2 linked regions of the Homo sapiens genome follow. The protein of the gene in region 1 interacts with the protein of each later gene in a biochemical or structural test. Each region holds a gene or a part of one and is shown in the gene's direction. Other genes may lie near its edges. The genes, in order: CEACAM5 and CD8A.

The links.
Region 2: the proteins of CEACAM5 (region 1) and CD8A form a complex in vitro, tested with the Homo sapiens proteins (one large-scale study listed by IntAct).

The regions. Positions count from the first base shown.
Region 1 is NC_000019.10:41,725,392-41,728,357, forward strand, and holds part of CEACAM5 (cell adhesion molecule CEACAM5 isoform 1 preproprotein), read left to right. Parts: intron 1-1,842; coding exon 1,843-1,925; 3' UTR 1,926-1,961; intron 1,962-2,966. UniProt on the Homo sapiens protein: Cell surface glycoprotein that plays a role in cell adhesion, intracellular signaling and tumor progression. Mediates homophilic and heterophilic cell adhesion with other carcinoembryonic antigen-related cell adhesion molecules, such as CEACAM6.
Region 2 is NC_000002.12:86,788,114-86,792,660, reverse strand, and holds the start of CD8A (T-cell surface glycoprotein CD8 alpha chain isoform 1 precursor), read left to right. Parts: upstream 1-1,747; 5' UTR 1,748-1,835; coding exon 1,836-1,884; intron 1,885-1,979; coding exon 1,980-2,333; intron 2,334-2,910; coding exon 2,911-3,021; intron 3,022-3,227; coding exon 3,228-3,338; intron 3,339-4,100; coding exon 4,101-4,131; intron 4,132-4,547. UniProt on the Homo sapiens protein: Integral membrane glycoprotein that plays an essential role in the immune response and serves multiple functions in responses against both external and internal offenses. In T-cells, functions primarily as a coreceptor for MHC class I molecule:peptide complex.

The DNA.
Region 1 (2,966 bases):
GTCTCACTCTGTAGCCCAGCACAAGCTAGAGTGCAGTGGTGCCATCATAGCTTACTGCAGCCTCAACCTCCAAGGCTCAAGTGATCTTCTGCCCCAGCCTCTTGAGAAGCTGGGACTACAGACATGTGACACCAAGCCTGGATAGTTTTTTAAAGAAATTTTGTAGACACTGTGTCTGCCTATGTTGCCCAGGCTGGTCTTGACCTCCTGACCTCAAGTAATCCTCTTGCTTGAGTCTCCCAATGTGCTGGGATTAAATGTGTGAGCCGCTATACCTCCATTTTCATTTCTGATTTTAGTAATTTGAATCTTCTCTCTTTTTTCTTAGTCAATCTAATAAATGATTGTCAATTTTGTTGATCTTTTTTGAAGAACCAACTTTTGGTTTCATTGATTCCTTCTATTGTTTTTCAATTTTCCATTTTATTTATTTAAACTCTAATCCTTATTATTTCCTTCATGTACTATCTGTGGTTTGAGGTGGTTCTTTTTCTGTATCCTGAAGTTGTAAAGTTAGGTTGTTGATTTGAGATCTCTCTTTATATTTAATGTATTTACCATTAAATTTCTCACACAAGATTCTTAACTTCTCTGAGCCTTCAATTCTTCAACTGAAAATTGTAATAATTCTCATCACCAGGAAATGGAGGAAAAATGAAAATTGCAATAAGAATGACTGTTTAACAGTATTGTTTTAAAGATTTAATGTAATATTCGATTAAGCTTTCAGCAAAATGCTACACACAGAGGGAAACTTCATAAATATTAGCTGCTATTATCACTACTGTTATTATTAGCTTGAAGTTAGGCAGTTCTAGAGCCAAATCCTAGATCCACTTCTCACTAATTATATGACTTTGGATAAGTTTTTTCACCACTCCAAGTCTCTGTCATTTCATCTGTAAGATGGAAATCATGCCTACCCAACAGGGTTATTGTATGGATCAAATGAGATGCCAGAAAAGCATTTACAGTAGCTAACATAGCATTAATCATCAGCCTGAGTTGACTAGTGAGAGCCAAGCCCCAAATGAAAACCCACTAGGACATGGTTACTGGCTAAAAATGGGGGAGAGAAAAAAAAGTTAAGTGCAAAGAATCAAGCCTGGTATGTTAGTTTTCATCCACTGAGATTCAGCCAAGATGGAATTAGAGGTGCAAGATAATTTACCGGGGGGAACCACCATGAGGAAAAGTGGAGTAGAAGTGGGAGGAGCCTGAGAGAGCCCTCAGACCACGATGCAGATCTGATTCCTGAGAAGGAGAAAGAGGAGAGAGTTTTAGATAGTGATGCAGTTCTCAGAGTTTCCACAAGGCTGGTGGGGCGTCCTCAAGCCCCTCACCCATGAGAGAGAAGCAGAGTCCCCCAGAACTGGGCTTTTCATTCCCCTGGTGGGAGCCCATGAGAAGCGAGTTCTCTGTGCAACGGACTTAGTAAATACAGAATGCACTAGCCTGGGCCTTCTGCCAATCAAGTCCCTGCCACAGAGACCCAACAGACTTATTTATGCCTACCACAACTGAGACACTGAGAAAAAGATGCAACCATGAAAAGATAGAAAGTTCTAATGACACGCAAAAATAGCAATCAGACTTTCTCAAATTTCAAAGCCTTCAGAAATAGCTGAGTGCAGACAGGCCAGGGTGGAATTGACAGAAGACTGATCACCAACTAGCAACACAGTGAGAGAGAAAAAATTGCAACTTTCCCACAAAACTAATGCATTCCTTGAAGCAACAAGTAGAGACTGCTTCATGCTGAGAGCTGGAACCTGGGGCACCCCACTGTAAAATAACATCACATTCATTCCTTCTCTTTTCTTTCCATGACGGACGATTCAGCATCTGGAACTTCTCCTGGTCTCTCAGCTGGGGCCACTGTCGGCATCATGATTGGAGTGCTGGTTGGGGTTGCTCTGATATAGCAGCCCTGGTGTAGTTTCTTCATTTCAGGAAGACTGGTAGGTATAATGGCCTTTCCTCTTGTTCTGTTTCCTGCAGTGCTGACTGCCATGCTTGGGAGAGGGAAGGGATTTCTTCACCTGTATCTGGGACTGGATCTCTTCCTCCTACCCCCAAGCTCCTGCTTCTCAGCACTAATTCCTGCAGGTCTCTTCTTCCCTGGTCTTCATGCTCCCTGTACGCCACTGTCTCTTAGATATAATTATCCCCACCCTCTGCTCATTTGTTTCCCAGATTCAATACATTGTCAAAGCCTCTTGGTCCTTTTTTAACATCTCACACTTGTGTCATTCTCTCCATTCCCATAAACCTCAACAACTGCTCAAAGTCCTGCTTGACCCCTTGTTGCCAGTCTTTGAAATCTTTCTTGCATATGACTGCCTCATTACCTTCCTAAAATCTAGTTCACTCGCCTACTCAAGAAGACACAGGGGCCTACTGTGGTGTATTAGATAAGTTCACATTTCTTCTCTTTACTAATCTTTTTTACTTCCTTTACCACCACTCCCTTATATAATTCCATCATCCTAATAGATCTGTTTCCCTACACATCCCTGCCTCTCCACCCCACATGTACACAGAATTCTTAGTTCCGGTGTTACACCTAAAAACATGTCAAACAGGGTGACCTCCTTCCACTGTCTGCACTGTGGAGTTACCCACACCCTTAATCACAAGCAACTTCTGACCTCATGAAGAACAAAGACTGTAGCATTAACCTGTGAGTCTTAAGCTCAGGACACAACTGTGCCTGTGACTGAGAACCTTTTCCTGATAACCAATTCATATGTTCATAACAGATACAGAAATGAAGAAGGCAAGGTCCTTAATTCTATAACAGGAGACAAAACCTGAAAAATAATCATAATGCCAAAATAGAAAGGAGTGAACATCACAAGAAATTAGAGAAATCTGACGGAAAATATAGCTACACATTGGAATCACTCAGAAACATTTTATAAAATGGATACTTAAGTCCCACCGATAAATTCCGATTTACTGGT
Region 2 (4,547 bases), on another chromosome or scaffold:
TAGCTGGGCATGGTGGTGTGCTCCTGTGGTCCCAGCTACTTGGGAGGCTGAGGTGGAAGGATCACTTGAGCCTGGGAGGTAGAGGCTGCAGTGAGCCGAGGTGGTGCCACACTGCACTCCAGCCTGGGCAACACAGCCAGACCCCATCTCAAAAAAAAAAATAGCAACAACGACAAAGAACCCATCCAACACTTAAGTTTGTACTTCACAAGGACAAGGAGAATGCAGTTCAACAAGCACAGCTCAGCCCATGCTGTGTTTCTGGGGATGGAGGACACATCATGAAGTCTCGGCATGGTCCTCGCCCAGCAGAACTAATGGGTGGGGCAGACACATGGAACACAGAATGCCAGGTGTCTTGTCTCTAGGATCAAGCAGTAGCAATGTGAGGTGCAGCCACTATGGGATTCAAAGTGGAAAGACTCAGAAACCCTGAAGAAATGGGAAGAGGGCATGCCACTGGAGCTGGAAGGTTTCAGGACAGCAACAGTCAAAAAGGAAAGATGAGCCTGTAGTCCCAGCTACTCAGGGGGCTGGGGTGGGAGGATCACTGGAGCTCAGGAGTCCCAAGGCCAGCCTGAGCAAAACAGCGAGACTCCAGTCTTTTTTATTTTATTTTATTTTTTAAAGAAACAAAAAGGAAGGGGACACACATGTGTTAGGGACAGAAAAGAGAAAACCGCCTCTACCCAAGCATTCACCCACATCACCCACACCTCCCTGCAGAGCACCCAGAGCTGGGGGTGAAAGAAATGAGGTCCAAATGAGACAGCACAGGAGCTGCCTCCAGGGCTTAAACAGACCAGCATTCCAGGCCGAGGGACCGCAAGTGCAAGGGCGTGAAAGCACAGAGCGCAGGGGTTGAATGACTTCAAGCCTGTGAAGCTGCAGCTGCAGGTGTATGGGAAAGGCAGGGCAGGGGGCTGTGCGGAGGCTGGGAGGAGCCAGCACCCAAGGGCTGGTCAACCAAGCTGGGGGTTGAATTTCCATCCAGCAATGCAGGCCATGGGAGGCTGCAGCAGTGACGCTGTCAGATCCCCTTTGTGAGAATAATAATTTTTATAACAACGTGGCTGGAGGACTGATCAGGAGAGAGACTGGTGTGAATTGAAGGCTGTTGCAATGGCTCCAAGAAGAGATGAGGCTGTGTGGTGAGTTTAGCCGCTGGATGAAAGGCCGGAAGAATGAGGTCAGCAGCGCACTGACACCGACACCCAAAGCTTCGGCTGCTGCCGCTCTCATGGAAATCTCCTGGGGGAAGGGAGAGGGTCCTTCCTCGGTGAAAACTGGGGCTGCTCTAGCGAGTTCCTCAGAAGCGGGCAGGTCGCTAGTTCCTCTTCCTTTTCAGCCCTCAGTGCCCATTTTGCCAATAAAAAGTCCCAAGGTGACAGTACAAGAGACGCCTTTAGTGAAGGCAAAGGAAGGGACACTCCCCTCCTTTGCTGCCTACTCTCGCCCTCACTTCTTGAAATCTTTGGTCTCCCTTCACCCACTCTGTCACTCTCACAAGACAACCATTTCCAAGGACTATTTCCAAGCCCTTTTCCTCATCCCCAAACCCGCAGTTTTCAGCTGCCCCCAGTTGCCTGGCCAGGCTGCCTCGACGGCCCTATTCACGGGCCCCAGCCTCCTCGCCGGGCTGGAAGGCGACAACCGCGAAAAGGAGGGTGACTCTCCTCGGCGGGGGCTTCGGGTGACATCACATCCTCCAAATGCGAAATCAGGCTCCGGGCCGGCCGAAGGGCGCAACTTTCCCCCCTCGGCGCCCCACCGGCTCCCGCGCGCCTCCCCTCGCGCCCGAGCTTCGAGCCAAGCAGCGTCCTGGGGAGCGCGTCATGGCCTTACCAGTGACCGCCTTGCTCCTGCCGCTGGCCTTGCTGCTCCGTGAGTTTGAGACGCCCGGGAAGGCAGGGGATGGGGCGGGCGGGGGGCGGGGGGCGCGGGACTGCGGGCTCAGCCTCGCTGCTTGCCGCCTGCAGACGCCGCCAGGCCGAGCCAGTTCCGGGTGTCGCCGCTGGATCGGACCTGGAACCTGGGCGAGACAGTGGAGCTGAAGTGCCAGGTGCTGCTGTCCAACCCGACGTCGGGCTGCTCGTGGCTCTTCCAGCCGCGCGGCGCCGCCGCCAGTCCCACCTTCCTCCTATACCTCTCCCAAAACAAGCCCAAGGCGGCCGAGGGGCTGGACACCCAGCGGTTCTCGGGCAAGAGGTTGGGGGACACCTTCGTCCTCACCCTGAGCGACTTCCGCCGAGAGAACGAGGGCTACTATTTCTGCTCGGCCCTGAGCAACTCCATCATGTACTTCAGCCACTTCGTGCCGGTCTTCCTGCCAGGTCCGCGCGCCGGGTTGCGGCACCTCTCCGCGTGGGGCTTGGGGTTCACCTCAACCTGTTTTCCACACCTGGGCCCTGCTTTCAAGCCTCTTAGCGCACCTGGAAGCGACTTAGATACTGTTCCCATTTCACAGACACAGCAAACTGAGGCTAACGCGAGGCTGAGTAGGGACTGGGGATGGCTTTTTACGTCCGGCCGATCTGGACTCGAGTTCGGATTCTTGTGTGATTCTGGGCAAATGACTTAAATTATCTGCGCCTCCGTTTGCTCGTGGGTAAAATGCGGACAGCAATCAACCCGCGCTCCAGGGTTGCTGGTTCAGCCCGGGAGAGAGGCCAGGTGCAGGGGAGCTGGCTCCTGCGCTCCGGCTCTGGGCGCCGGGTGCGCTGGGCTGAGCCGAGGCCCGAGCACAGGGGTCCGCGCGCATCCCGGGGTCCCCATCCTGTCTCCTCTGCTATCCCTTCTCCCAGGAAAACCGGGGGGAGGCGTCCCCGTGGGGAAAGGTGCGCGAGGCCGGGGCTGGGGCGCCTCCATAACCCCAGCCTGGCCCCCAACCACGCTCTGTTGCTCTTGCAGCGAAGCCCACCACGACGCCAGCGCCGCGACCACCAACACCGGCGCCCACCATCGCGTCGCAGCCCCTGTCCCTGCGCCCAGAGGCGTGCCGGCCAGCGGCGGGGGGCGCAGGTGAGGCGTGCGGGGGCCCGGGGCGGGGGCGGCACGCACCGCGGGGAGAGCCCATGCCAGGGACAGCCCTGATACTGTAGGTAGAGTCAAGGGCTGTCCAAGTGGTGGGAAACCGAGATCTGAGGCGGAGAGACGTTCCCGGGACGGTGGGGCGGTTGGGAGGTCCCGGGCCCTCTCCTAAATGTCGGCGTCTTTGGTGTCGTCAGTGCACACGAGGGGGCTGGACTTCGCCTGTGATATCTACATCTGGGCGCCCTTGGCCGGGACTTGTGGGGTCCTTCTCCTGTCACTGGTTATCACCCTTTACTGCAACCACAGTAAGTCCCGAGGAATCGCGGCGGGAAGGAGTCGGCCCCGCTCCTGCCCTTGGCTCTGCTAGCTCCAGGCGGACCTTGCGAGGGGGGAGCTTGGGGTTGAGTTTTCTGGGACTCCCGAGCTGCCCCGCAGGTACAGGCACTTCTTTCTGGGAGATAGAATGCGAGAAAGCCCTTCCCGCTCCTTGCGCTCTCGGAGAGGTTTTGGGAGACAAAGCCGCGTTCCCAGAGCCGCTGCAGCGGGTGTGTTCCGTCGACGAAGCCCGCAGCGCGCGCGCACATGTCTGGACACATGACAAACGCCCGCCGGGAGGGGGCCGCTGTGGCCGAGTCAAGTGCCCAGGAGGGTTAGTCAAAACCACCATCAGTTTGAGGTTCGTCCTTGGCCCTCTTCGGCGAACCGCCCACCCTGCTTTGGGTCCCATGCAAGAGAGGTGCCGGATCAGGTCTGCAGGCTCCCCGCTTTCGCCCGCGTCTGTAGTTGCAATTTTTTTTAATTGATGCTTGAGACGAAGGATGGATAAGAAGCCCTTACCCGGCTCTCAAGAGTTATAATCCTCAAAGAAATAGGGGAAAGGAAGGAGAATTCGTAGAGGCAATTCCCTATTTGCCTCATCCAATTTCAGCCCATGATCGTTCTGAAATGATTTTTTGTAAAACCAAAAAACAGCAGCAACAACAACAGCAACAACAAAAAATACACTGTCTTTGGGGACTATTGATGGATAGGGGCACTCACTTTTTCCCTTCTTTTTCCTTATCCAGGGAACCGAAGACGTGTTTGCAAATGTCCCCGGTGAGTCTCTTTTGAACTCAGCCTGCTCACCTTGGCCAGCCCTGGGGTGGGGTCCTGGTTTCCCCAGCAGCAAATAGTGGGAACTTTTCCCAGAGAGAGGTCATGGCCGTGAAATCCTGGGGCAGGGAGTCAGCCAGTTCCTGAGCAAAGAGAGGCCAAGGCTGGCATCTGGCCTGTGTCTTTGAGAAAAAGGAGGCCCGGGTTAGGCGGGTGCCAACAGCAGTGTGACTCCAGTAAATCTCCATCTTATTTGACCTGGCACTTCCAAAAAAAAAAAAAAAAAACCTGAGGGATTCCCCCAATTTATCCTAGCTCCTCGTAGGACCTGACCTCCTCTTTATTCTGATTATTCCATCTGGGTTTTGTTGTTTTCTTAAGAAAACAATTTTTTTTCCTACTTGGCTGGTCTAGTTTTT